Regions from separate parts of the Homo sapiens genome. Here region 1 is linked to region 2. Evidence: fine-mapped expression QTL. Tissue or cell type: whole blood. Region 2 holds a variant in brackets; the other region holds the start of a gene. All regions are shown on one strand. Distances are from middle to middle.

Region 1 (8,110 bases), 210 kb after region 2:
TAAAATTTGTACATTTTGACAACTGTTTTCGCCTGATACTTTCCCTATAACTTGTCTATGTAGTTCATTGTAGGAATGTTTAAAATTATTGAGTTACCAATCGTGCAATTTTATTAGATGTATTCTCACTGTTGATACATCTCTTTTAAACAGTATTCAAAACAAGTGATTTTCTATCTCTCTGATTATTTGCTCTGTTTTTCTCTCACTTCCTAAGAGTACCAGTAATACACCTGAGAAGAACAAAATATCAGGAATTATAGAACTTTGAGATCAACAACTCATGTCATATTCTACATAAGTTACAAATCAAGGCAAGTCTTATTCTGCAAGAATCTGTTTTAAGTTTGAGTGCATTTAAAATATTAGGCATATATTATTTTAAATCCCATCATTACTTCTAGTCACTGTATAGCATAGCTGTCACTGTCTTACACAGTTCTGAAGTCTGGTTCTAAAAGATTATACTATGTAATTTCCTTCTGTAAAATATGAATTGCAATTGCTTTTTCAAATACAGAATTGGTTCATTATCTCTAGTAACACACTTTTTGTTGATATTTACATTAGTTTGGATTAATTTTCATGTAATGGAAAAGAAAGCAGGTAGAGACATCTAATCTATTAGGTCACTCCATCTCTATATATACTAGGAGAAATATAGAAAATAGAGGGGAAATTGCACTACTTCTTAATGCCCTTTCTCTTTTATTTGAAAACGTATTTCATAGTTCTAACTTGGGAGGAAAAGTGTGGGTAGTCTGTAAGATGCTTTAGTAATTAAGGGGCTAAAAAGGATACCTCAAAGGGTCTGTTTTTCCATTCTTCACAACTTAACTGCATAGCTATGGGTTTTAAGGGGAAATGCCTTGCATGGAGGCTAAGGAAGCAATTAGAAGCTCACACATTCTAAGTTCCAAATATGGCTCCTTCGGTGCTTATGACAACCTTGGGGAAAGCACTGGTGACTTAAAAAGAAAAAAAGGACAGCCATTTGACTGGCAAGTGTCAGTCATTCTGCTATTTGAAATTTGAGGCCAGGCGTGGTGGCTCACCTCGGGAGGCGGAGGCGGGCAGATCACAAGGTCAGGAGATCGAGACCATCCTGGCCAACATGGTGAAACTCCGTCTCTACTAAAAATACAAAAATTAGCTCGGTGTGGTGGCACGCACCTGTAATCCCAGCTACTGGGTAGGCTGAGGAAGGAGAATGGCTTGAACCTGGGAGGTGGAGACTGCAGTGAGCCGAGATCGTGTCACTGCACTCCAACCTGGTGACAGCGTGAGACACTGTCTCAAAAAAAAAAAAAAAAAAAGGAATTTGAGACAAAGTTTCAGAGACACTCTGCTATAGAAAGGTCTGAGAATATATTGTTTATCAAATGAAAGAAAAAGTACTTGCAATGACACTAAAGTTTATGCAGAGTTGAAAGAAGTAATAAAATTATAAATGACCTTGATTGGCAGGATGGTGTTCCTCATCCATGTCTTGCTCCATCTGTCCAATTAGTATGGGTTACTTGACTAACCAAATTCATTCATCTGTAAGTCCTTTGAACTATATACATTAAAGCTCATGCAAACCATTCCCTCAGAAGACCTTGCACCTTTTATGTATGTGAAAATCTGAAATCACACCCATTTCCCTAAGCTTCTGAGAACATTTGTATACAACAACCATCAAAAGCATATTTCCAATTATTCTTTTAGGTCCTTTTCAATTAATTAGGGGACTATGCCAATCTCAGGAAATCCTTGTGGAAAAAGAAGAAACACCATTAGAACAACACACGGAGTAACCAGTTTTGAGACTAATGCCCAAAAAATTAATTGGGAGAATTTTTTAGTAATTGAACCTGCATAGCTCTCTCTGCTGCTGAGGATTAGCACAAAGGGGCAATTTCTTAACATTACCAGGTGAACAGTAAGATCAAAGATGCTAGGCTTTGAGCTCGTGCCCATCTCCTCTGTGAGTACACAGGCAAGCACAGAAGAATTATTTTACAAAAAGCAGCATATATTATAAGCATTTTCATAAATACCTCAAATCCAACAGAGGATCTTTGTCTATTAACCAATCATTTAAAATAGCTATTGTCCTCCAAAACGCAGCCCAGTAAATATTTTTAAAATTAATATCCAGTAATATTTATACTCTTAATTTCTGAATCTGGATAAGGAAGATAACAAAACTTAAAATAACATTTTTCCCAGAGTGTTTATCAACTCTCTTACCATCAAATGTTAAATAAACTCTTGCTTGGGGCTGGGAAGATCCTTTCACACAGATAGAACAAATAAATACTCCAACCAACACGCAAATTGTCCGGAATGCCATTTCTTCAGATATGCAAGTTAATATCCAAGGGAAAATACCTTTAAGAGAGAGACAACATGTTTGTTATATCTCATTTCACATTTTAGGAGTAGGAAAAAACAGCAATCTAGACAAAACACCCTATTCACAAAAGAACCATCTGAACTTTTACAGTAATGCAAACAGTAGGAGGTGCTGTGTCTTTGCTTCTCAGATGTGAAAATGTGGATTTGATTCATTTGTGTCTGGAAGTCTTTGCAACAAGAGAAACTTTCATCTTCCAGCAAATTGATGCTACCATCAAAACAGAACAAAGCAGTGAAGAAAAACACTGATACCCAAAGGAAAGCCCAATATTTTAACGGATCTTCTCTCTAGAAATCCATTACATTAAAAAGACTTGAATAGAATTGAGCTAAAAGAATATTACTGGATGAGAACTCTTTCCCCCCACTAACGTAACAGCAGCAGCAAAATCTCACATGAGCATTCATGTGTACCTACTCACTTCAATAGTCATTAGCTCTTTTGGAGTAATTGTCTCTGGAAGTGGTGTTTCCTTACATAAATCTATGTGTGCTCAATCCTGGATCACTGAAGTCACTGGAATCAGTTATCTGCCATTTTATCCAGATGACCAACAGGCAGTTGTTAAATGATGCAGTTGAAGTAACCATGGACTAGTGCCAAATTCAAACCAATGACCTAGTGGTGAGCAATCCAGTGAGCCATGTATCCACCAATGCATATTTTAAATAAATCAACCAGAATGTGGGCTGTCAAAATTCCCAAAGATAAATCAAAGAGACAGGTGTCACTGCTTCAAACTATAGATATAAAATTGGTACATGCTATTAACTAATATCTGAATCCCAAGGAAGACCAGATAATGTGTTACCATAAACCTACAGGAGCTCTAGTGGCTACATCATGTAAAATAAACTCAGGACCATTAAAGAAACACAATCATTTTGCTTCTACCATAATTACACAATAAAGTGACCCAAGAGTCCAGTAAAGAAATTTATTTTTACAGGTTACAACAATGCTGATCTTCATTATTTGGCTTTTCAAATTAAAATTTCATAGTCAAAATTATTAAATTCTTTGTAAGAACCACTAACAACTGAAAAAGACAGCTTCATTAATACAGAATAAAAAGAATTAAATGGAATATGCAATTTTAAACAAAAATTGTAAGTAGATTTCCTAGGTGGTGCATATGTTATGAGAGTTAGAAATGAAATTGTACGCTTCTTTTACCACACAGATGGAGGAAACTCTAGAGATGTTTGTGTTGGTAATTTTCAAAAGAAACAGTTTCTTCCTGCTTCCACAACCTCTTCACCCTGTCATCCCTAAATTAACTTAGAAAGAAACTGATTTTATGGGTGACTTTCCCTCAGTAATTTACCCCTTGGTTCTGTTGACTTCATAGTTAAAGCCAAAAGAAAAAAACTATTAATATGCCTAACCTTTGTTATGTTTACTGAGCAAGTTGATATTATTTACACATTTTTTTTACATATTGGTATCTTACCTTATATGTTTCTCCCAAAAGTACATATACAACCAATTGCAAAGAATACTGGTGATACAATGGCAGGTGAAACGAAGATAGTCTACAGGGCAATTTGATTTACATCCCACCTAGTGATGAGGAGTGAAAGACTGAAAGCCAAGTGTCTTAAATACACCCCCGCCTCCCCAACAGTATCTTACAACTTCTTCCCTTTAACTCAGACACAGACGTTCCTCTTGGTGTTTTCACTTCTGCTGATCGCAAACTAACAACACATTAAGAAAAGAATTCTCTTATCTCCTCTGGAGCAATTTTGCCTTTGAAGGCACTGTAATACTCAACTTGAAACTCTCCGCAGGTGTCACCGCCTAAAGAAACAACTCGAGCAGGGCTCTCAGCAAGGGGAAAGCTTCCCTGACAAACCGCGTGTGTTCTTAAGAAAATGTCCAGGCTTGAGCATACCAATGTATGAAAAATCAATATACAGGCCAAAAAAGTTATACTTTGCTAAATCTGTAATGCGGAAAATGACCAATTTAGCTTACCGAGGTTGAAAGAAATCAGCACGGAAAAGTCATCAGTTTGCTACCGGGGTTGGATGCGCTTGTGTCTCCAGTCCTTTTCCCAGACGACCTTATTTTCTAGCACGTCGCAAAGGTGAAATTCTTTCTTCCCGGTCCTCTGAGTTTCTTTGTAAAGGAATCTCAGCGCTGCAGTGCCGCGGCACCCGGAGCTCTTCTCCGCGTCGCTCAATCAAGCACCTCGGAGTGAATGGAAAGTGGCCGGAGGCCGGGGGCGAGCGCTCTTGGTGTCCGATTACAGCGCCGCGGCGCGCGGCTCCGGCTGCCCCGGCGCGCCGCCCTGCAGGCTCGCATCACCACCGCGCAGCCCCGGCCGCATCTCCGCCAGCCGCGAGGCCCCACCCCGAGCGCGCCCGCGAGAGCCTGGCAGGGAGCCGCGGGGGCGGACCGGGCGGGGCCGACCCTTAGAGCTCGCGGCTGGCCAGACGCAAGAATGCGCGGCCGCAGGCTGGAGCCCTAGCTCCGCAACCCTGCTCCTTTCGCAGTCCGCGGCGGAGTGAGCAACTTGCTGGGTGCGCTCCACGGTTTTTGTTGCCGGCGGCTCTCGAAGACTTACACAGGCTTTGCCTGGCCGTAAATATCAAAGTGCAAAGCAGTTGTGGTTTTTTATTTTTGCCAGGGAAGGATCACTGCAGCCTTTTAAGGCAAAGAGATGCGTTTTTAAAAGGACGTGAGTTTTGTCCTTATTCTGCTGCGTTTTTTTTTTGTTTTTTGTTTTTTGTTTTTTGTTTTGTTTTTGGAGAGGGAATCTCACTCTGTCGCCAGGCTGGAGTGCAGTGCAGTGGTGTGATCATGGCTCACTGCAACCTCCGCCTCCCGGGTTCAAGCGATTCTCCTGCCTCAGCCTCCTGAATAGCTGGGACTACAGGCTCCCACCACCACGCCCAGCTAATTTTTGTATTTTTAGTAGAGACAGGGCCAGGATGGTCTGGATCTCTTGACCTAATGGTCCGCCCGCCTCAGCCGCCCAAAGTGCCGAGAGCCACCGCGCCGGGCCTCTGTTGCGTGTTTTCTAAAACAGGTCAAGATAAACGACAATCTTGTTGCACAAGTGTATCCTTTTAATGGGTATTGTTTCCTATTGAGTTTCCTTAATGCCCTGAAAGCAGTAATTCTGTTGACCCCTCCACGTTGACTCATATCCAGTACGTTGTCCCCAACCATACTCCCAAACATAATTACACGAAGAAATTATTTGACAATTCTATGTGGAGAGGCTGTTCTGAGTTATGCCAACAGATTGCCATAACCACACATCTACAGAAATACATCAGAGGTATTTTTCCAGCATTACTTTCAGGTACACTCGTTAAACTCTGGAACTGACTTTGATGTTTAAGTGAAAATTACTTCTCCGGACCACAATAAACTAGATGTTTAAACATCGGGAGAAATGAGCTTTGATCCCCATAAAACAAGCAGGCACTTGCTTAAAATCACTGTGGGGCACAGCCCAGCAGATGTCACTCTACAGAAGGAACGTGGAGTGTAATATCTCCACCTTATACCTGACAATTCACATAATGAAACAATCATTAAATTCTTATAAACTGTATCATAGAAAACCCCTCTGGGGGTGCAAAATCATTGTTCAGTGGGAAAGTTGAATGAAATCTCAGGTAGGAGGAAGAGGTGAGTGAGACACATCTTTCATGTGTCTGGGGCCCACCTCTTGTGTTCAGTAAACATACACGTGTCTCAGACTCACGCTGCATAGTCAAGGAACGAAGGATCAAGTCAAATAATGCAAATTTATGAGTTCAAAAATACTATTCCAGGGCTAATATTATCTCCAAACGTCAAAAAATTAATATAGTAACAACAGTTAAAATTATTTTTTGTGATGATGCGTGAGAAGATCCTTGACATAAATTTGTAATAAGGAATTTAACCCCCCAAAAACTGACAATATTAAAATCCAGATGTCAATGTGAATAAGCACTGTGCGTGCTTCTCTGAAATACTTCTGAAACTGAGTAAGATCCAGGTTATATACTCTCCACTATTATCCTCCTTCTGATATCTCATTCGGCATTTATATATTAAGCAGGGAGAAGAATAAATCATTAGAAAGATGAGTGTGTGGATTAAATTAATTTAGAAATGTGGAGCTGTTAGAAATTGATCAGCAAATTCACGTAAGATGGAATTCGTTTATACATTTTAAGTTTGAGAAAACCACGATAAAGAGTTGCAAGATGAAATGCATCTCAAACGGTGTATTTACAAAGGAGCTTAATTCCAAACTCAATTTACAAACACCAATGAATTAGCTCAATCTGTTACACATTCAGGGGTTTGGAGGCCTTGACAAATAGCTTAGATTTAATCACAGCCCATGAAATTTGTGCCGAAATTCCCTCAATATTGCTCAAATAAACCTCTTTTCAATGTGCTCCTGGGATTTAATGGTATTTGCTTAGCTCTGAGACGTTTACAGTTGGCCACACCTCAAAATGAATCATAAAAATACTGATAGGCTTTAGCCAAGATAGATTCAAGCGCAAGGACACAGTGCTCATGCTTGCCAGAGACTTAGGCCACAGAGTGGAATTTTAACAGTGGCACTAGAAGCCCCTAAGATTAATCTCTGCCCACATTTCCCCACACTGCTTAAAACACCTTGACAAAACAAGACTTGCCTAAGAAACATTTCTGGGCACTACCACTTTTTTAAGACTTCAGCTTTGACTGTCCTTACAAGTGGAAAACAACAGCTAATTGAGAACGCTGTTTTCGGTAAGGGGGACACTAAATGGATCTACAGGAGTAGTGGCACAACTAAATTTAGAGAGCACTAATTACAATGTTTGCACCCAGCAAAACGTTTCAGACGAGCGGCCAAACTAAAATACTTAGGATAACTTTTATTAAGACGTTTTAGAAATGGTGCAGTATCTTACACACTGAAGTGTCTCTGCCTGCCAAGGTGTAGTGGGCATATTTTTAATATTTTATGTTTTTGATGGTCCTGAGGAATGCTATTTAACTTAAAACTCTAGCACCGATGTTGAGTTACATACTTTTCTCCAGGAGTTTCTGCAGCTATACATTATCTTATTTCAAATTTAAAGAAAACAGATTTTTCCCTATTATACAGATGAGTCATGTAAATAAACTTTACCCTAACCAGAGAATATTAATCATTCAGAGGTTAAAAATTGTCTTATTATTTAGTCATAAAAACTGATATTTGTAATAGAAAATAGATTGTGTATTTGCGAGGTACTTTGCTTATTATCTGCATAGCATTCTTTAATGAAGTTACAATTTTCAATGAGAGAACGTTGAAGGTTTGCCCAAAGTCAAATGGGTAGTAAATATCAGAATAGGAAGAGAAACTCAAGCGTGATTGCCGTAATGTCTCAGGTTTTTCAATAAGTTTCAATACTTCCTCTTACCTTTTTTGCTTAACATTTTTCTCCTCTTTTCTACTTCCCTCTCTTTCTCCTTCACTCAACTTCCATATGCCATCCTTTTAAGTTTCCTGAACTGTATCTTTGGAAAGTCTCAACTTCCAATGGTTACTTACTTTATTTACATCAGCCTTACGTCTCCTTGGGTTACATTAGCAGCTCTGAGACCAAGCCGGTCAAACAGGTCTGGTCTAGAAATCTGTGTGTGAAACTGCTACCTGCACAGCAAATAGGCTTTAATATTTCCTCTATCAAATCATTTCTAATTTTTCAA
Region 2 (8,112 bases):
AAAAAATGTTGAAAAGATAAATAAGCGTTTAAAACCTACACATATCATGTCTGAAGAATAGACTTGTGGGTCTATTGCATCAGACGTGGAAGGGGCAATAGGGGCAATATTTTATACCTAAAGAAAATCAACATCAGTTTTACCCTTCACCTTCAGCCAGCCCATTAAGTGTGTATGAGAGAGAGAGAGAGAGAGTGCACGTGTGTGTGTACAGGGTTGCCCCACCTAAGAGAGAGAGAGAGAGAGAGAGAGAAAAAGAGAAAGAGAGTGTGTTTACAGTGTTGCCCTACCTGAGAGAGAGAGAGAGAGAGAGAAAGTGTGTGTGTGTGTGTGTGTGTGTGTGTGTGTGTACAGGGTTACAACTAAACTGACCCACAAGTCTCTGAATTTTAGTGAGGCACAGACCTAAAGGAGAGCATCATCAGAGTAGTGTGCTTGCTTTTCATATTATATAATGATTTAATGGAACCACAGATGGTGATTAACACTGCAAACATTAAACAGAAGAAAGATTCCAAATGTATTAACTTAATCAAAGCATATTTATTGAATATCTGCTATGTGTCTGGAACTATCCTATTTGTTTTAGGAGAAATGAGAGATGTATAAATAAGGAAGTCTTCAAGGAAGTAATTTTCTAGTTAGTGAGATAAGACAAACACAAAAGAAACTTAATAGAGGAGATAAATGGCTTATTTGAGCATATTAAGATATAATACAACCCAGCAGGAAATAATACATGTAAATAGTTTCCAAGGCTATGTTCAGAAATATTTTCTCAATGTAGTTACCAGGGGTGGGGGAAGGCAGGGGTGGGCAATGGGGAGATGTAAGTTAGAGGATACAGAGTAGCAGATATTAGGGTAAACAAGTCTAGCAATCTAATGCAGATGAGGTTTAGAGTTAATATATTGGCTCACGCCTGTAACCCCAGCACTTTGAGAGGCCAAGGCAGGCAGATCACCTGAGGTCAGGAGTTTACTACCAGCCTAGCCAACATGGTGAAACCCCATCTTTACTCAAAACACAAAAATTAGCTAGGCATAGTGGTGCACGCCTGTGCTGCAGGCTGAGGCAGGAGAATCGCTTGAACCCGGGAGGCAGAGGTTGCAGTGAACTGACATTGGGCCACTACATTCCAGCCTGGGTGACAGAGTGAGACTCCATCTCAAATAATAATAATAATAATAGTAATAATAATATACTGTATTCAGAAATTGTGCTAAATGAGTAGATGTTAGCTGCACTTGCCACACACACTGAAAAAAGGGTAACTATGTGAGATGATGGATATGTTAATTTGCTTCACTCTAGTAACCATTTCACTGTCTCTATGTATCCCATATCATGTTACATACCTTAAATATAGACAATAAAATTTATTAAAATATTTTTTTCAAACTTGGGCATTTAAGACTTGGTAATATGAGTGATACCAAGCTGAAACACAAAAGAGATTGTTATATTTACAAATTTTTAAAATATCACAATTACAAAAACAAAGATATTCCAAAATAAGAACTCTCTTGAATTTTCTAATTAAGAGAAACAGCAGTGTTCTCCTATGGGCTCTAACAACGCATCTGCATACTGATTTTCCTTTCTCAGCTTTTATATTTAAAGGACATGTATCGGCTTCTCCTTGGTGTTCTTAAGTCCCCAACACTTTCAAAAGTTGTATGTGATCTATGGGGAAATATGATTGATACCAAATTGTATTCAGGCCATCAAGTAAAATCTCAACATTTCTTACTGTTCCTTCTGAAAGTCACAATTCCTATTCCAAACAGTTATTTCTTATTCTTTTTTAGGCTTTGAGGCCCAACTTAATAACTTTGCTCAATAAAAATTGTGCTGTTTTTAGTTTTCCATAAAAAGTTAATATAAAAGTAGAAGCATAAAAAAATACACCAGAAGCATAATGGAGTATAGAAATGTGTAAAATGAATTACTTTTCTTTATCCTGTTCTTTTTATTCTTTATATTAGTGGATGGCTCCTTCCCTTACCCAGCTGTGAATAAGATCAACTTAAGTTGCTTTCAATTTAGTGGGGATACAAACAAGCAAGTAGGAAATTGTGATACACTGTTATAATCAGGGAAGGGCAAGAAGCCTGTGGAAAAATCAGACTGAGAAAATTGAAAAAAAAAAAAAAACAGGAAACATCAGAAAAAATAGTTGTTAATGAAACCAAATCAGAGGGAATTCTAAGCAGAATTAACATAGTATGAAAAGACTTAGAGAGGAGTGAGATTCACTGGAGGAGCAAAAACAAGTTTCATATGGCTGTAGTTTCCAGCACAAGTTAGGGACTGGCAAGAATGAAGCTGAGATGAACAGTGGGGTGAACAAGGAAGGATTCTGTAAATCAGGCTAAGAATCACTGAACTTGTTGAGGATGAGGTGTAAACATTGGGGGTTTTAGGAAGGAGGATGACACAACCAGATAATATTTAAAAGATCATTCTGGCTATTGTGTAACACATTTACTGAAGGATGTTATAACAAGTTCCATAAAATATATTAGTGATCAGAACAAAGGCAGTAGAAGTTCACAGTGAAAGTGGACAGTAATCAAGAAACATTGAGGGAGTTGAATTGACAGGACTTGTTGATCGATTTGTAGGATATAAGAGGATTTTTATTTAGATAGATTAGATATTTAGATAGATTAGATAGTTGGGTAACATGACATAGGCAACACAGAAGTAGACATGGTTTTGGCTGGGTGAAGTGATGTGTTCAGCCTTAGAAGTACTGCTAGGTGCATATAGAATGTAGAAGTATAACTCAAGAGAGAAAGAGACAACTGGATAAAGACATAACTGAAGCCATGGACATGAATGAAATCATGCAGGGGAAGAATATAGCATAAAAAAATAAATAAATAAATAATAAAACAGTCTAAACAAAGTCCCAAGGAGCGTTAACTTTAAAGATGGGGCTGGAAGAAGCAGCATTTCCAAAGGACTTAGAAAGAATGCCAGGAAGAGGAAGAGGAGAACAGTCACAAAAGGTAAGAGAAGAGTGTGCTTTAGGGAGAAGCATTGGTGATGAGCAGCCCCCATCCTTGTGAGAGACTGTGGAGGGAAGCAATTGCAGTAGAGTCATGGTCAAGGAAACCAGATTGCTAAAGAGTGAGTGAAGTGTTAAGTATTTAAAACATATATGAAAC[TC/T]TTTCAAGAAGTATGGCCACAAAAGGGAAGTCATCAACTAATTTTCATCATATATGTAAATTAAAACACTAAAAGAAGGTATCCAGGATATTGTGACATGGAGAAAGTCTCCTAACTGTTCCTCTTTAAGGGCAACCTAAGTGAGCACACTTTATCTTATCTGCAAGCAGACTATCTTGATGAGCGTTAGAAAGCCTAAAAACCCAACTTAGCACAACCATACAAGAGTATGCTCCCACACTGTGTCCGTCTCACCCTTACCCAAGTGAAGCTGCAGTTTCTAATACCTTTGTTTTTCCTCTCCACTCATAATCAACGTAAAATTGGATCCTCCATTGTGACTGAGGTGAGGTAGTATGTAAACAGAGATCATTCAACCTAGGGGTTGGTAAGAGTCCCTCCTTTTCTTTCTTGTGGCACCAGATAGGAGGAATTTGGACTTGAACTTCTAGAGATCTCAGGACAATCACCAGAAATAGACTTAACGTGGCCAGTGCTTCATGGCATTTTAGTACTTTGAAAGCTGCAGTCAAGAAGGGCGGTGATCTCTTGATGAATTTCAAGGTTCATTTTCTGATCAGGTTGAGTAGTATCTTTTATGGACACAACTATATCTATTCCAGGAGCTTCCTCAATTGAGTTTCCTTCCTATATTTTCTTCTGGATGTTATGAAGGTGATATGATTAGGTTTTTGTCCCCATCCAAATCTTGTCTTGAATTGTCTCCATAATCCCCATGCATCATAGGAGAGAACTGGTGGGAGATGATTGGATCGTGGAGGCAGTGTCCCCATGCTGTTCTCATGATACTGAGTTCTCACAAGATCTGATGGTTTTATAAGGGTCTGACAGTTCCTTCTATACACACGATCTCTCCTGCCACCATGTGAAGAATGTCCTTGCTTCCTCTTCACCTTCCTCCATGATTGCAAGTTTCCTGAGGCCTCCCCAGCCATGTGGAACTGTGAGTCAATTAAACTGCTTTCCTTTATAAATTACCCAGTCTCGGGTGTTTCTTTATTGCAGTTTAAGAACGGACTAAAACAGAAGGCAAAGCTACTTTGGAATCATAATGTATTCTGATACTATAATCACTCAGGATAACCTATCACTGAGACAAACGTGTGCAGTGACCCTGTCTTTTCTGGGATGAGTCCACCTTAATCATTTTGATTGAAATGACTACCTACAGTGGCATTTTACCAGGTGGGAAAAAAAAAAACTATTCAAGATTGTTAATCTCCTTACAGATAACAGAAGTTTGATATCTCAAGGACATAGAAAATGAGCCTAATTTGAGGTTCAGTCACAATATCTCAATTTATTTAAAAACCAGTCAAGTTTCAGTTCTTTTTTGATGAACACTCTGTGTGATCTGATATACTGCTATGCTTGTGTAAATGTCCCTTCTCAACTTAAAAGCTTTTCTGGCCTGGCATAGGTCACCAAAATAGATGGATTTACCAGAATTAGCATCTTTTTCATATCTTTGACCAACATCAGAATATTTCTATTGAGAACATACAATCAGTATTGAATCTTTATCTTATAAAACACACACACACACACACACACACACACACACACACACACACACACTCAACTCGAAATGGATTGAAGACTTAAACATCAGACCTGAAACCATAAAAATCCTAGAAGAAAACATAGGCTAAAAGCTTCTTGATCTTGGTCTGGGCAATGATATTTGGGATATCCTACCAAAAGCTCAGGGTACAAAAGTAACAATAAAGTGGGACTCCACCAAACTAAAAAGCTTCTACACAAAAAAGGAAACAAGTACCAAAATGGAAAGACAGTCAAGAGATTGAAAGAAAATATTGCAAGCCATGTATCTGATAAGGATTTAACATCCCCAACATATAAAGAGCCTACACAATTCAGTAGCCAAAAAAAAGAACAAAAGAAAAAAGAAAAGCAATCTAATTAAAAAGTAAAAAATGGACAAAGGATCTGAGTAGACATTTTTTCAAAGGAGACAAAAATGGCCAACAAGTATATGTAAAGGTTCTCAACATCACTAATCATCAGGGACATGCACAGCAAAACTACAGTGAGCTATCACCTCACACCTGTTAAGATGGCTGTTAATGAAAAGATAAGAGATAACAAGTGCTGGCGAGAATGTGGAGAAAAGGGAACTTTTGCATGCTCTTAGGGGAATACAATTATGGGAAAAAGCATGTAGATTCATCAAAAATAAAAAATTAACAATTAATAGAACTACCATATGATCCAGCAAGTCCCCATCTGGGTATATACCAGAGGAAATGAACTCAGTACCTCAGAGTGATATTCTGCACTCCCGTGTTCATTGTAGTATTATTCATGTTAGGCAAAACAAGAAAACAACCTAAGTTTTGTAGACAGGTGAATGGATAACAAAATTACAGTATGTAATGAATATAAATAAAACTTATATAAGTTTAAGGCTACATAATACCTCATTTTGTGTGTGTGTGTGTGTGTGTGTGTATATATAAACTTGTGTGTGTGTATATATATATAACTTGTATATAACATATGTAACTTATATAACATACACACACACACACACAAAATGAGGTATTATGCAGCCTTAAGAAAGGAAATTCTGCCACTTACAACAACATGGATGAACCTGGAGGACATTATGCAAAATTAATAAACCAGACACATGGAAATTTTCTAAGAGAACATTTCAGGTGCTCTCATGACAATAATAAAGTAAGTGAGGAAATGAATATGTTAATTTGCTTATTTTATTCCATATATGTATTAAAACATCATGTTGTACATGTTAAATATACGGTTTCTACAAAAAATAAAAAATATGTGTTAAGCAAAGTGAATTATTTCAGAACCTCAATTGGCTTACATCATAATCGAATTGCACTTCATTGAGGATAAACTCCTGGAGGGAAGAGTTCTTTCCACATGGTTATCTCCCGTTTATTGTCTGGCATGTTTGCTTGTACACAGTAATTTCTCAATAAAGTTTTATGGATTTTAAATTGCTCCATAAGAACAAATGCCTAGAAACTATTGGAGAATTAGAACAAGAGAATTTTCTAGCTGTGTGCCAAAGAAGATAATATTGTCTTCTTAATATCTTAATATTATCTTATTAATATGGGAGGTACTGCAAGAATACAACTTTAATAATTGTACCATATAATTCTGATAATTTCTAGTCAGAGCTGTACTTTTTATGTTAATAGCAAGCATTTTCAAATGCTGAAAGTATAATAAATGCTGCAGTCTTGTCTGTTGTAAATGCATGTTTGTTATTACCAAGCAGCTCTAGTTTACAAATGAATTCTTACAGTGATCTAACTTCTTATATGCACAATTAACTCTGATTGGCTCCTCAAAATCCCTGGGGCACCCGTTGGCTCTCTGCTCACACTTGGTCCCCCTGTGGTGTAGTCATCACATCACACACTTCATTGTTAGGCAAACCCACATGAACCCTTTCTTCCCCTGAATCACATGCAATACTGCCAACCTCTGTGTCATCTTCTTGAGTCGCTACTCCCTAGTGGTCTTGCATCTGGAAGAGGAACTAGGAGAATCAGCAGTCAGGCCCAGAATTCCTGGATATCTCTTGTTGCCAACTGGGATTCACATTTGGGTTGGACTAATCATGTTTTTGCCATCCCTGAACTAAGTGCAGTGGACCTAACTGTATCCTGCCAACTAAATCTTAAATCCCCAAGCCTCCTGCCGTACACAGCCAAAATTTACAATTCCTAATTTTTATTCCTTATTCCATTGTACTAGGTCACTCCCATTTTCTTTATTTTAACCATTATTCAATAGGGGTAACAATACTAAATGTATCTCAAAGAGCTTTATCTTGTCAGAGGATTGAAAAGTGAGGTAAAAGAATTTTAAGGCAATAAAGAAGCTTTATTTTTTATTTTTATTATTATACTTTAAGTTCTAGGGTTACAGGTGCACAACATGCAGGTTTGTTACATATGTATATATGTGCCATGTTGGTGCGCTGCACCCATTAACTCGTCATTTACATTAGGTATACCTCCTAATGCTATCCCTCTCCCCTCCCCCCACCCCACAACAGGCCCCGGTGTGTGATGTTCCCCACCCTGTGTCCAAGTGTTCTCATTGTTCAATTCCCACCTATGAGTGAGAACATGCGGAGTTTGGTTTTCTGTCCTTGCAATAGTTTACTGAGAATGACGGTTTCCAGCTTCATTCATGTCTCTACAAAAGACATGAACTCATCCTTTTTTAATGGCTGCATAGTATTCCATGGTGTATATGTGCCACATTTTCTTAATCCAGTCTATCATTGTTGGACATTTGGGTTGGTTTCAGGTCTTTGCTATTTTGAATAGTGCCACAATAAACATATGTGTGCATGTGTCTTTATAGCAGCATGATTTATAATCCTTTGGGTATATACCCAGTAATGGGATGGCTGGGTCAAATGGTATTTCTAGTTCTAGATCCTTGAAGAATCGCCACTGTCTTCCACAATGGTTGAACTAGTTTACCTTCCCACCAACAGTGTAAAAGTGTTCCTATTTCTCCACATCCTCTCCAGCATCTGTTGTTTCCTGACTTTTACTGATCGTCATTCTAACTGGTGTGAGATGGTATCTCATTGTGGTTTTGATTTGCATTTCTCTGATAGCCAGTGATGATGACCTTTTTTCATGTGTCTGTTGGCTGCATAAATGTCTTCTTTTGAGAAGTGTCTGTTCATATCCTTTGCCCACTTTTTGATGGGGTTGTTTGATTTTTTTCTTCCTTTCTAACTTTGCAAGGCCAATTTTACTTTGGATGTGACTGAATTTTAAATTGTCAAAAGCAGGGGGAGGAGCCAAGATGGCCAAATAGGAACAGCTCCAGTCTACAGCTCCCAGCGTGAGCGACGCAGAAGACGGGTGATTTCTGCATTTCCATCTG

The links. PIP is the estimated chance that this variant, and not a neighbour inherited with it, causes the effect.
Region 1: it holds the start of SEMA3C, and the variant in region 2 is fine-mapped to the expression of SEMA3C in whole blood (TOPMed, PIP above 0.99).

The regions. Positions count from the first base shown.
Region 1 is chr7:80,914,444-80,922,553 of GRCh38, forward strand. SEMA3C (semaphorin 3C) reads right to left here and starts at 4,608. Exons shown (of 18, transcript NM_006379.5): 1 at 4,385-4,608; 2 at 2,236-2,376. The coding sequence starts at 2,338. RefSeq lists an enhancer at 4,128-4,197 and a silencer at 4,745-4,874.
Region 2 is chr7:80,705,090-80,713,201 of GRCh38, forward strand. No RefSeq gene overlaps it. Among named protein-coding and RNA genes, the nearest start is that of CD36, 71 kb to the left of the region's middle. The variant TC/T (reference allele first, on the strand shown) is at 3,177.